2 separate regions of the Homo sapiens genome follow, and region 1 is linked to region 2. The links come from fine-mapping of genetic effects on gene expression. A gene starts in region 2. The other region holds a variant in brackets. All regions are shown on one strand. Distances are between the middles of the regions. Region 1 overlaps SPATA1 (spermatogenesis associated 1). Region 2 holds the start of RPF1 (ribosome production factor 1 homolog).

Evidence for each region. PIP is the estimated chance that this variant, and not a neighbour inherited with it, causes the effect. A credible set is the group of variants that fine-mapping cannot tell apart.
Region 1: its variant is the best candidate, but not a certain one, in a credible set for the expression of RPF1 in whole blood (INTERVAL, PIP 0.72).

The regions. Positions count from the first base shown.
Region 1 is chr1:84,518,181-84,523,568 of GRCh38, forward strand. SPATA1 (spermatogenesis associated 1) reads left to right here. Exons shown (of 14, transcript NM_001397487.1): 3 at 2,405-2,511; 4 at 4,210-4,327. Among named protein-coding and RNA genes, the nearest start is that of GNG5, 14 kb to the left of the region's middle. The variant T/C (reference allele first, on the strand shown) is at 3,278.
Region 2 is chr1:84,477,138-84,482,525 of GRCh38, forward strand. RPF1 (ribosome production factor 1 homolog) reads left to right here and starts at 2,129. Exons shown (of 9, transcript NM_025065.7): 1 at 2,129-2,372; 2 at 3,819-3,875. The coding sequence starts at 2,145. RefSeq lists enhancers at 1,790-2,350, 2,546-2,705.

The DNA.
Region 1 (5,388 bases), 41 kb after region 2:
ATAGGTTTGGGAACTCTTCAAGATGAAAGTTTTAAAAAACGTAACAACCAAATGCATTGTGTGATCCTTGTTTGAATTCCAGATTAAGAAAATATTTCGAGGACAATTGGGAAAATTTAAATATGGACTGGATATTAATTGACATTAAGGAATTTTAATTTTTTTAGATGTGAAAATGAAATTGTGATTATGTTACAGAGGTCCTTATTTTTAGAATATGGATGCCAAATAATTTAGGGATATAGTGTCATGATGTCCTGTTTACTTTGAATATTTTATTCAGAGGGAGAGAATTACTCTTTTTATTTATATGTATGTTTAAAATTTTTCATATTAAATAAAAATATATGTCAGATCTTAATGTTTCTCTTAAAACCATGCATTAGCTTCCCATTTTGTAGGTGAAAATGGCCCAGAAGGTGCTGTATGTTTCCCCTCTACCTCCTTATTTTTCTGAACTTATCTTCTACCCTCTCCCCTACTCTCTCTGCTTCAATCATACTGGCATGCTCTCACCTTAATACCTTTATTTTATCTCTTTCTGGAACTCTTTCCCTCTAGATCTTCACTTGGCTAATTCCTTCTTTTCCCTTAGGTCTTTACTCAGATCTCACCTTTTCCATGAGACCTACCCTGACTATTTAAAACTGAAAACTTCTCCATCCCATATCTTCCCATTCTTCTTTACCCTGCCCTACTTATTATTTTTTCCTAGCAATTACCACTTTATAATATAGTATGTTACCTATTAGTGTTTTATGTTTATTGTTTTTTAATTTTTAAAAAATTTTAAAAATTGTACTTCTTAGAAGTCAGTATTTATTGTTTGTTGGCTATATTTCTCACAGAGCCAGGACTAGTCTGAGGCAAATGAGGTACTTGCCACAGATGAAAAATTTAAGGGGCTACCAAAAAATTTTTTTAGTAAAATTAATGCAAAAAAAATCCATGATGAACAAGATATCCATATTTTAAATAGAGACAGGATCCAACAGTGCCATCTCTAATCATTTTGAAACTTGGGACAAAAGAAAAAGTATGTGCCATACCTTGTAATGTATTTTTAAAATAGCTAATGGTTTTAATGAAAATGTTATTGATGAGTAGCTTCCATTAAAGTCAGGAAGGTAAGATTATAATAAATTAGCGTTTGAGTGTAAATAGAATATTTAACCTTAAAATAATATTGTCAGATTTAATATGTACTTTAAAATTTTTCAGTATTTTTTCAACTACTTTGTTGTTCTGGAAAAAAGCCATTAAAATGTCTTTTTTAAGAAGCATATATATAAATATTTAGTTCAAGAAACAGTTTCCTCCTGTAAAATATTAATACATTTATATAAAGATAAGGTCATATTTACTTCAAATTTCTTAAGGTTTTGCAAATATTTAATAGTATAGCTAGGGGTTAATCTTTTAAGTGCTCTAGTGTTCAAAATGCAACGTATAGAAAACTTCACTGTCAGATCTATACAGACATTTTAAATTGTTAGTTAATAATCATCATCAAAAGCATAGAAGTAATTTTCTTGATTTATAAAAACAACTTGAAGAAAACCTTATGCTCAGGAACTATTTTTATCTCCTATGAAATTACTAATATTAACAGTAGGTCATATTCAAACTTTTAAAGGTTTCTCAGATATTTAATATTGCATTCGAGAATATTCATTTAAATGCTTTGACTTTTAATATGCAGGGAGTATCAAACTTAATTTGACTAAAAGATAAGACTATATTTGCAATCATTGTTTCTGTTGTGGTTATATAAATATTCTTCTAAATAGAAGGATTCTAATCAAGGTCATAACAAAACATCAGTGGAAAAGTGGATAGTTACATAGAAGCATAGACATGCCCAATGTAAGAACAATCATTCCTTTCTCATTGGTCAGGAATAGGTTCTTCCTGGAATTCTGGGGAATAAGTACATTCCCCAAACCACAGTATTAAACTTTTTGCAGGTGCTGAGGGCTAGCAATCATCAGAACTGTAATAGGGAGAAAATATACAAAGGATAAAGATTCCACAGGGGATCACCCCAATGGAACTGAGTAGGTGGGGAGTGAGGTGAGGTAAAGTTGATGTTAAGAAAACTAGTCTTGGTGCCCTAGGATTCTTACTGCAGGCCACAGAAAAAAACACCATATGCCAAAGATGTTGAGCTAATCTCATAGCCACATCTATAACATTGTTGCCAAGGGAAAATGTACTCCAAGTGCCAAGTGGCCAACTTAAGAACAAATTTTTAGTTCATTTTGGTTTTTGTTTGTTCAGAGGGATGTATGTATTCCATGTTTTTTTTCTATTGTGTTTATTAAACTTAATTCTATAGGACATCAATTGATTTTTTTTTTCACTTTAAAAATATTTTAACCGATGTTCTTCTCAATTTATTCAGTTGGTGGAACTTCATGTTTTTTATGTCCCTGAAGGATCATGGAACTATAAGCTAAATACCATTTCAACAGAAGTTGTTAACAAATTCATTTCAGCTGGATTTCTAAGGCAAGTGTTGTGTAGTCATGTAACAATATGCCTGAAAGAAGAATCTGTTTTCTTCAGAGAAAAATGCTTTTTGGAAATTTAAAAACTATAAGTGAAAAATATTTTGTCCACGTGATAGATCCATTTCCTGACTTAATGAATACTATCAATATATAGTGCTATGTAACAATTGAATCAGTTCTGTAGGAATAGCTCACTTGGCCATAATACTACCACCCAGAAAACAGTATATAACCTGTGTATTATTATGGTTATACACAAAGTGAATTAAGAGAGAAGTTATCTAAAATTAAAAATCTGCTAAACTACTCAGGAGGCTAAGGTGGGAGGATTTCTTTGAGGCCCAGAAGTCAAGGCTGCAGTGAGCCATGATTGCAGCACTGCACTCTAGTCTGGGCAACAGAGTGAGACTCTGCCAAAAACAAAAAAGAGAGAGAGAAAGAGGGAAAAAGAAAGAGGGAGAGAGAAGAAGGAAGGAAGGAAGGAAAGAAGAACGGAAGGAAGGGAGGGAGGGAGGGAAAACTGCTGATCTGAGAATAGCAGTTAAAGCAATATATCTACAACGCCTCTTTCTCTGACCTGTTTAAAAATATAAACAAAGAACATGTGTTTATATGTATGTAGATGTGTATTTTCAAATTCACAAAAAGACACATAATACCATGTGATCTGACTGCCTGTTGTTACTCCTTACGCATACCTCTCTTTCTAATCTTCATCATCTCTTTCTTCAACCACATCAGCCTCCTTTCTGTTCTGGAACACA[T/C]AGCCCTACCTCAGGACCCTTGTACTTTCTGTTCCTTTTGTCTAGAATGAGTTTTCTGCCCTAACCATATGCTCTCCCATCTCCTTCAGGTCTTTACTCACATATTACCTTTTTCTGTGGATATTCTCTAATCACTGTATTTTAAATCATTCATACAGTCCCTTTCTCCCTTCCCTGCCTTATTTTTCTCTGTGGTACTTAGTAGTGTCTTATGAATTACATTTTTTTACTTATTTACTTCATTAATTTTTCTATCCCACCACTAGATTATATGTAAAGTCCATGAGGGCAGAGATTTTTATTTTGTTGACTGCCATATTCACATCCCTTGGAACAATGTCTGACACATAGTAGATGCTCAATAAATATGTGTTGATTGAATGAATTACCTAATATTTCTCATAAGGTCCCAGAAAAACAAGAACTCAGATGATAGCGTAAGTGATGGCTTTAAATTTTAGATATTCAGGAGCAAAGTATCCCTAATAAGCAAAGATGTGGACTCTGACAATGTTAGATTATTTAAAAAATTTTTAAGCACTAGCTACTCCTGCCAAACTTCCAAAATAAATATCTGTGGCTAAATCATTCATTGGTATATGTATAAAAGTACATCTATTCCACAGCAAATTTTAACAATAAAATTTGGAAGTAAATTAGCAAAGAGACAGTTGTTTTCCTTTTCAGTACAAAACATTTATAAACAGTGTTTATTTGCATAATTTTAAAGGCAGACTTTTAATTATTTATTTTAAGAGCTATTTATGGAAGACCTACAAAATGCCGGCAATGTGGAAACATAATATGTTAAGCTATATCTGACACATTAAATCAACCTTTGTGTTTGAGATAGCTGACTAAAGTTATTGAATCATTAGTATATCCAAAATCTATTTCATTTTATATTATAAGGCAATTTTATAATATTTCAGAGTATCTCCTCAACTTACTTTACGAGCCCTGAGGGAGCGTCTTGGTGAGTTCCTGGGTGAAGATGCTATTGCAGAAAAATTTTTATTTCTGAAATGCATTGGAAATAATTTAGCTGTGGTAAGTTTTCTTTTTTTTTCTTTCTGATTGAGAAAGACCATACCTTCTCAAATTACATTTCTTAAATGCTTATCAACTCAGCTCCTTAAGATATTATTAGATATGTAATCTCAATCAAAATGAAATGGAAATATCATTAAACATACAGATCAACAAAGATAAGTTGCATAGGCATGTTATTGGGCATGAAAATGATGGGTTTTGTGTGTGAATTTCCTTGCAAAGCAAAGAAATACCAATTTAAAATGTGATCATATAAGTTCTTGAATTTAAATGAAAGTTTTTAAGTGTTTTAAACAGGTACTTGAGTTCTGGGAAAAAATGGGGTTCTCATCACTTGTGCCACAACTAGACTCATTTGATGTGAAAATGATATGGCTCCAACATATTTTTTTGGTGTCAACTTTTTTTTTTTTTTTCCGAGACGGAGTCTTGCTCTGTCACCCTGGCTAGAGTGCTGTAGTGTGATCTTGGCTCACTGCAACCTCCACCCCTCAGGTTCAAGCAATTCTCCTGCCTCCCGAGTAGCTGGGATTACAGGCATGCGACACCACGCCCGGCTAAGTTTTGTATTTTTAGTAGAGACAGAGTTTCACCATGTTGGCCAGACTGGTCTCAAATTCCTGACTTCAGGTGATCTCCCTGCCTCAGCCTCCCAAAGTCCTGGGATTACAAGCATGAGCCACCTTGCCTGACTGGTGTCAACTATTATTTACTGAACACTCCTATTTGTAGTTTCTATGACTTAGTGGGCAGGATACTCTAAGTAGAGAGTATTCCTAGCTTAAGTTTCAAATCTAACAAGCCATCAGATCTCAAAGGTTCTGGTCTCTCATATCTACATAAATTTTATTTCCTTAATCAAGATTTTCTATATTTAAACTCTTTAAAATGCAGCATATTCTTATTTCACTCTCATTAACAGATTATATCATTATTATGTGTTTATGTGAATATTTGCTTAACATCTAACTCTACCATTAGATTATAGGTCCTTGTGGGGAGGGACTTCATTTTATTCATCATTGTATTTATAACCAGTGCCTAACAAGGTGCTTTGC
Region 2 (5,388 bases):
TGGATGGAGCTTGTGTTCTGGAAGACACAGTTTTGATGCTTTTAATATCCTGCTGTTGTTAAATAGAATTTGAATGGGTGAAAAATGAAATGTGGACAAAAACATATTGGATTCTCAAAACACGAAATATAGATATTGGTACATAAAATTTGAAATTAAGGCAGATTCTGGAAAACTGACTCCTAACAGTAAATCAAAAGGGATTTCTTGTTGCTATTTGGAAAGCATTTTCATAAAATTAGAATGAAGAATACAGCAAATTTAACCACTAGGAAAACACTTTCTTCACTTGCCTTCCATGACATTCTACTCTCTTGATTTTCTCTTCTCCTTCTCCTTTGCTGGGTCCTCCTTTTCTTTCCATCTCTTCATGCAGGACTCCTCCAGGGTTCAGTCCTTGATCTTCTTTTTTCAGTTTTCTATCTACACTCATTCTAATGGTTTGAAATACTACCTATGTGCCAATTACTTCCAAAGTTTGATCTTTAGCCCACACCTCTCTGTCCTGCTGCAGAATCATACATCCCAACTGACTAGTTGACACCACCAATCAGATCACTAAAAAGTATCTCAAACTTAACATTTCCAAAACTGAAATCTTGATCTTACCTCTCAGATTTGTTCCATCTGAACTTTCCCGCATTTCACCTGATGGTAACTCCATCCTTTGAATCACTCAGGTCGAAAGTCTTGGAGTCATCCTTGACTCTTTCATGTCCTCCCTTCAGTTCCATCAGTAACTTTACCTTCCAGAGGAATCACTTCTCAACCACCTACACAAGACTTACCCTGGTTCAGGCCACTATCATTTCTTCCCTTCTTCCACACACCCTGCCCCTGCATAGGCTCTTCTCAAAAGAAGATTCTGAATGACGCTTTTACTTTATTTTTATTTATTTTTTTGAGAGGGTCTCACCCTCTCACCCAGGCTGGAATGCAGTGGCACCAACATGGCTCATTGCAACCTAGCCTTCCAGGCTCAATGGATCCTACTGCCTCAGCCTCCTGAGTAGCTGGGACCACAGATGTACACCATGCCCAAACAGATATATATATTTTTTTACTTTTTGTAGACATGGGGTCTCACAGTGTTGCCAAAGCTGGTCTTGAACTCCCAGGCTCAAGCAATCCTCCTGCCTTGGCCTCCCAAAGTGCTAAAATTACAGGCATGGGCCACTGCACCAGCCTGATACTTTTAAGATGTTAAGATCATACCATTCTTTTCCTCAAAATTCTATAAGAGATCTTCATCTCACATAAAATAAAAGCCAAAGTCCTTACAAAACTCTACACCACCTGTCCAATCTCAACACTTCTTGCCTTTCCTGGCTTGCTACTGACTAGGAGCATTGGAGCTGGCTGTTTGCTTTGCCAGGACAGCTTTTCTCCTTGATAACCAGCTTTTCTCAGATTAACAGCTCTTCCCTCAGATAACTAGTTTAGCCCATTACCTCCTTCAAACCTTGGCTCAATGTAACGTTTTCAATGAAGCCTACTCTGAGAATCCTATTTAAAATTGCAACGTACTTTGGGAGTCCAGGGCGGACAGATCACCTGAAATCAAGAGTACAAGACCAGCCTGGCCAACATGGTGAAACTCCATCTCTGCAAAAATACAAAAATTAGCCGGGCATGGTGGCACGTGTTTGTAGTCCCAGCTACTCAGGAGGAGGAGTTTGCAGTGATCGGAGATCGTGCCACTGCACTCCAGCCTGGGCATTAAAGCAAGGCTCCGTCTCAAAAAGATGAATGTCTCTTCATCTTCTTTTATCCTGTTCTATTTTTTTTCCATACCATGTCTTACTCTGTAGCTCACCATAATTTATTTGTATGCTCATTTTAGGTTTCCCTCAAGTAAAACGTAAACTAATCCAGGCACGGTTTTTGTTGTTGTTCCATTATTTTGAGGGCTGGGCACATAGATGCGCAAGGAGTGCCCAAACTCATCATCTCACTCTTTATACAGCTGGGCAAACTGCCTAAAGTTTCCTCAAGCCTCAGCTTTACTATTTTCTTGAATGGCTAAAACTCACAAAACACATCTAGCGTCAAAAACTTTGCGACCCCGGAAGTAAAAGGTTAAGGAAGGGGGTCACAGGAGAAGGCTATTTCCGTTTCCGTACGGAAGCAAAGGAGCCAAGACCATGGCGAAAGCCGGGGATAAGAGCAGCAGCAGCGGGAAGAAAAGTCTAAAACGGAAAGCCGCTGCCGAAGAACTTCAGGAGGCTGCAGGCGCTGGGGATGGGGCGACGGAAAACGGGGTCCAACCCCCGAAAGCGGCTGCCTTTCCGCCAGGCTTTAGCATTTCGGAGATTAAAAACAAACAGCGGCGACACTTAATGTTCACGCGGTGGAAACAGCAGCAGCGGAAGGTACGCGAGAGGCGGGGGCTGCCGGGCGCTTGCGCGTTGTTCCTGACGCTTAGGGCGGTCGCGGGGCGCACATCTGTGGTTGTCTGCTGGTCTCAAAAGTGTTCTCTGTGGCTCCGTGGGAAGGGTGGCGTCGCGGCCCACGTGTTCTGGTCCCCTCGCCCTAGTTTGGAGACTCTAGGTTCAGCCTTTTGCCTGAGCGTCAAGGTGGAAGATTATCTTGATAGGCTCTTTCCTGGGACGCTAGATTCACAAGGAAAGCTGTAAGGCCAGTTGGCTTAGTAGTGAAAACTACGCCCTCCTGGCCCAGAAGGCAAAAGTCTCAGCCCTTTGGTCCGTCTAGGTAGCGTTGGTTAATTTGCAGAATCTGAAATGGAGGCAATACGTAATAAATCCAAAATACTGCTTCTCTGATTCCTGCAGGAGCTCCTTACCGAAATTAGTACTGTAAAGTTTCTGGTAATTGTATTTGTTCTTTTCAGCTTTATCCTTATACGTTTCTGGTAGGTAAACAAACTGAAACGTAAAGAGGTTTAAACGACTTGTCAAGGTCGCAGTGCTCATTTCTGGTTAAATTGCAATTGGAAGAAAACGTTTGCTTATTCTTGCACATCGTAGAAGTTCACACAATATTATTATTATGTGTCTGCCTCCTCTTACTGGCCCTTCTGAGGCCCGGGACTGGTTCTTACTCATGTTCAGTGTCAAGGTGCTGTTTCAATACATACAAGGGGCGTTTAACTCATTCTGGTATGCACGTATTGGGGAGGGATGTCCTGGAAGACTTATTGGAGCTATGATTTCTAATCTGAAACCTGGTGGATTGAGGATCAGTAGGTGCTGGGGAAAAAAGAATATTTTTTATTTTGTCAAGCATTCTATCTAGAAATCTCCAGAAGAATATATAGATTGACAATACAAATACAGATAATCTTAAGCCACCTTGCAAGCTCTTACTAAATTTTAGAAGTATATTTTGATTATAAAATATGTGAATAACTGGTGATGGTTTTATGGAAAACAACCTGAAAACTCAGCTCCCATTCCTATTTTTAGTGCTTTTCAAGAGAAGCAAGCAGCATAACCATGGTCGTCTTTAGGATGCCACCAGTTAGGCAAAACAAAACACAGTGGAAACCATCACATACTTTAATTAATTTGAGGCTTTATGGAAAAAGGTTAAGCTACTCAAATTTTAAATGTTCAAACTTGCCAGTTTAGATTTTTTTAAAGGAGCAGGTCTTTGTTAAAGAAATCTTATTGATTGGCCAGCTCATTTGGCTTACAGTAATTTAGGTAGAAAACTCCACGTCCAGATGCTTATTTCAATAGATTACAAAGACCGCCCAGTTCGAGTATTCATAGCATTAGTAATTTGTAGTTTCAGTATGTGTTTGTGATATAACTGGTTGTTTCTCAGTATTGTTCTCTTTTTTTTTAACCCTTTAGGAAAAGTTGGCAGCTAAGAAAAAACTTAAAAAAGAAAGAGAGGCTCTTGGCGATAAGGTAAATAAAATTTTTAGCTGTTTGCTTTCTATCTTATATTAGGGAATCCCTCCTGATATTTAAGTTGAATTACTTTCTTTTAAAATTTATTATTACGTATTTCAGATGTATGAAGAAATACAAAAGTAATATAATAAACCTCTTTGTATCATTTACCCAGCTTAAGAAATAATGCATTAGCAAAGAATGTTGGAAGCCCCTCGTCTGCTTCATAATTGCTTTTCCCTCCGAAGATAACCACTCGTGAAATTTTTGATTATTTTTTCCATGCACTTCTTTTACCTTTACTGTGTATGTTTGTGTACCTATACGGTAACACAGTGGTGGTATTTTGCATATAACTTTGTGTTTCAGAGGTCAACACCTCTCCCTGACTTTGGGAATGGGGAAGCTCCCCCAGGTTAGGCCTGGAGCTTGGCTCTTGTCATGTGAAGCAAAGATTTTTGGTCAGGCAAGGCTGGGGAAAGGCAGGACAGATCCTCTTCTGGAGTAGGGTGATAAGGGTGTGTTAAGCTTTAGAGCTGGTACAGAGGATATGAACCTGTGAAAAGTGAGAATGGGGAGTGGGAGGACGGTGAGGATTATGGCAGAGAAAAGAGCAGATAATGCATCAAGAAAGAATTTGGCTGTATTTGTGGTACTCATAAGAAGTGAAATCTTTATTGAAAAAATTTTTTAAACTACTAAATGCTCATACATTATTGCATAGCTAAGTTATTTTTATTTTCAGTGTATTTATAGTTACTCCTAGGTTGTGATTTATTTTTGCAAAATTTTGAAAACATTCATGTCTCCGCCTCCCATTCAAGTAAGTTACCAAATAAGGGTGTTTGAGGAAGGGAAAAAAATGTAAAGACAGTATACAAACTAAACACTCTACTATTTCATACATTCTTTGAATAGTATTAGGTTAAACCATAGAAAATTGTCAATAGTAGACTGTTTTGACCTGCAGTATCCTAGTATGTCAAGCATGTTAGTCTCTTTTTAATTCTTTTGTAATCAGTCTATTACAGCAAATTAATGTTATGATCACCATTTGAAAACACCACCATTCTTGTTTTTTGAGATGAAAGATAACTTCTTAAAATTGCCTCCTTTAAAAAATGCTTAAAATGTAATATTTGTTTCATAGAGTAATAAATGCTAGTTTCAGTTTGTATTTTCTTCATAGCTCTGCTAGTGTACATATATTTTGAATTAGTTTTAATGTACTCTTACAATTCTGTGTTCTACTTCTTAGCAATTCATTTACACCATTTCTTGGTCTAAGCTGAGTATGCATGATTGCTGATCCTAACAGTATTCCATAATGTTGATGTACTGTAGTATGTTTAGTCATTACCTTGTTGAACATTTGCCCTGTTTGCTGTTTATTTGCATTATAAATAGGGATACTATGTATTTCTTCGTTCAAATTTCTCCCCCATTTACATTCCTGAACATAAATACCCCAAAGTAAAATTACTAGGTCAATGGATAACAACTAGACTTTTGTTAAATATTTCTGAGT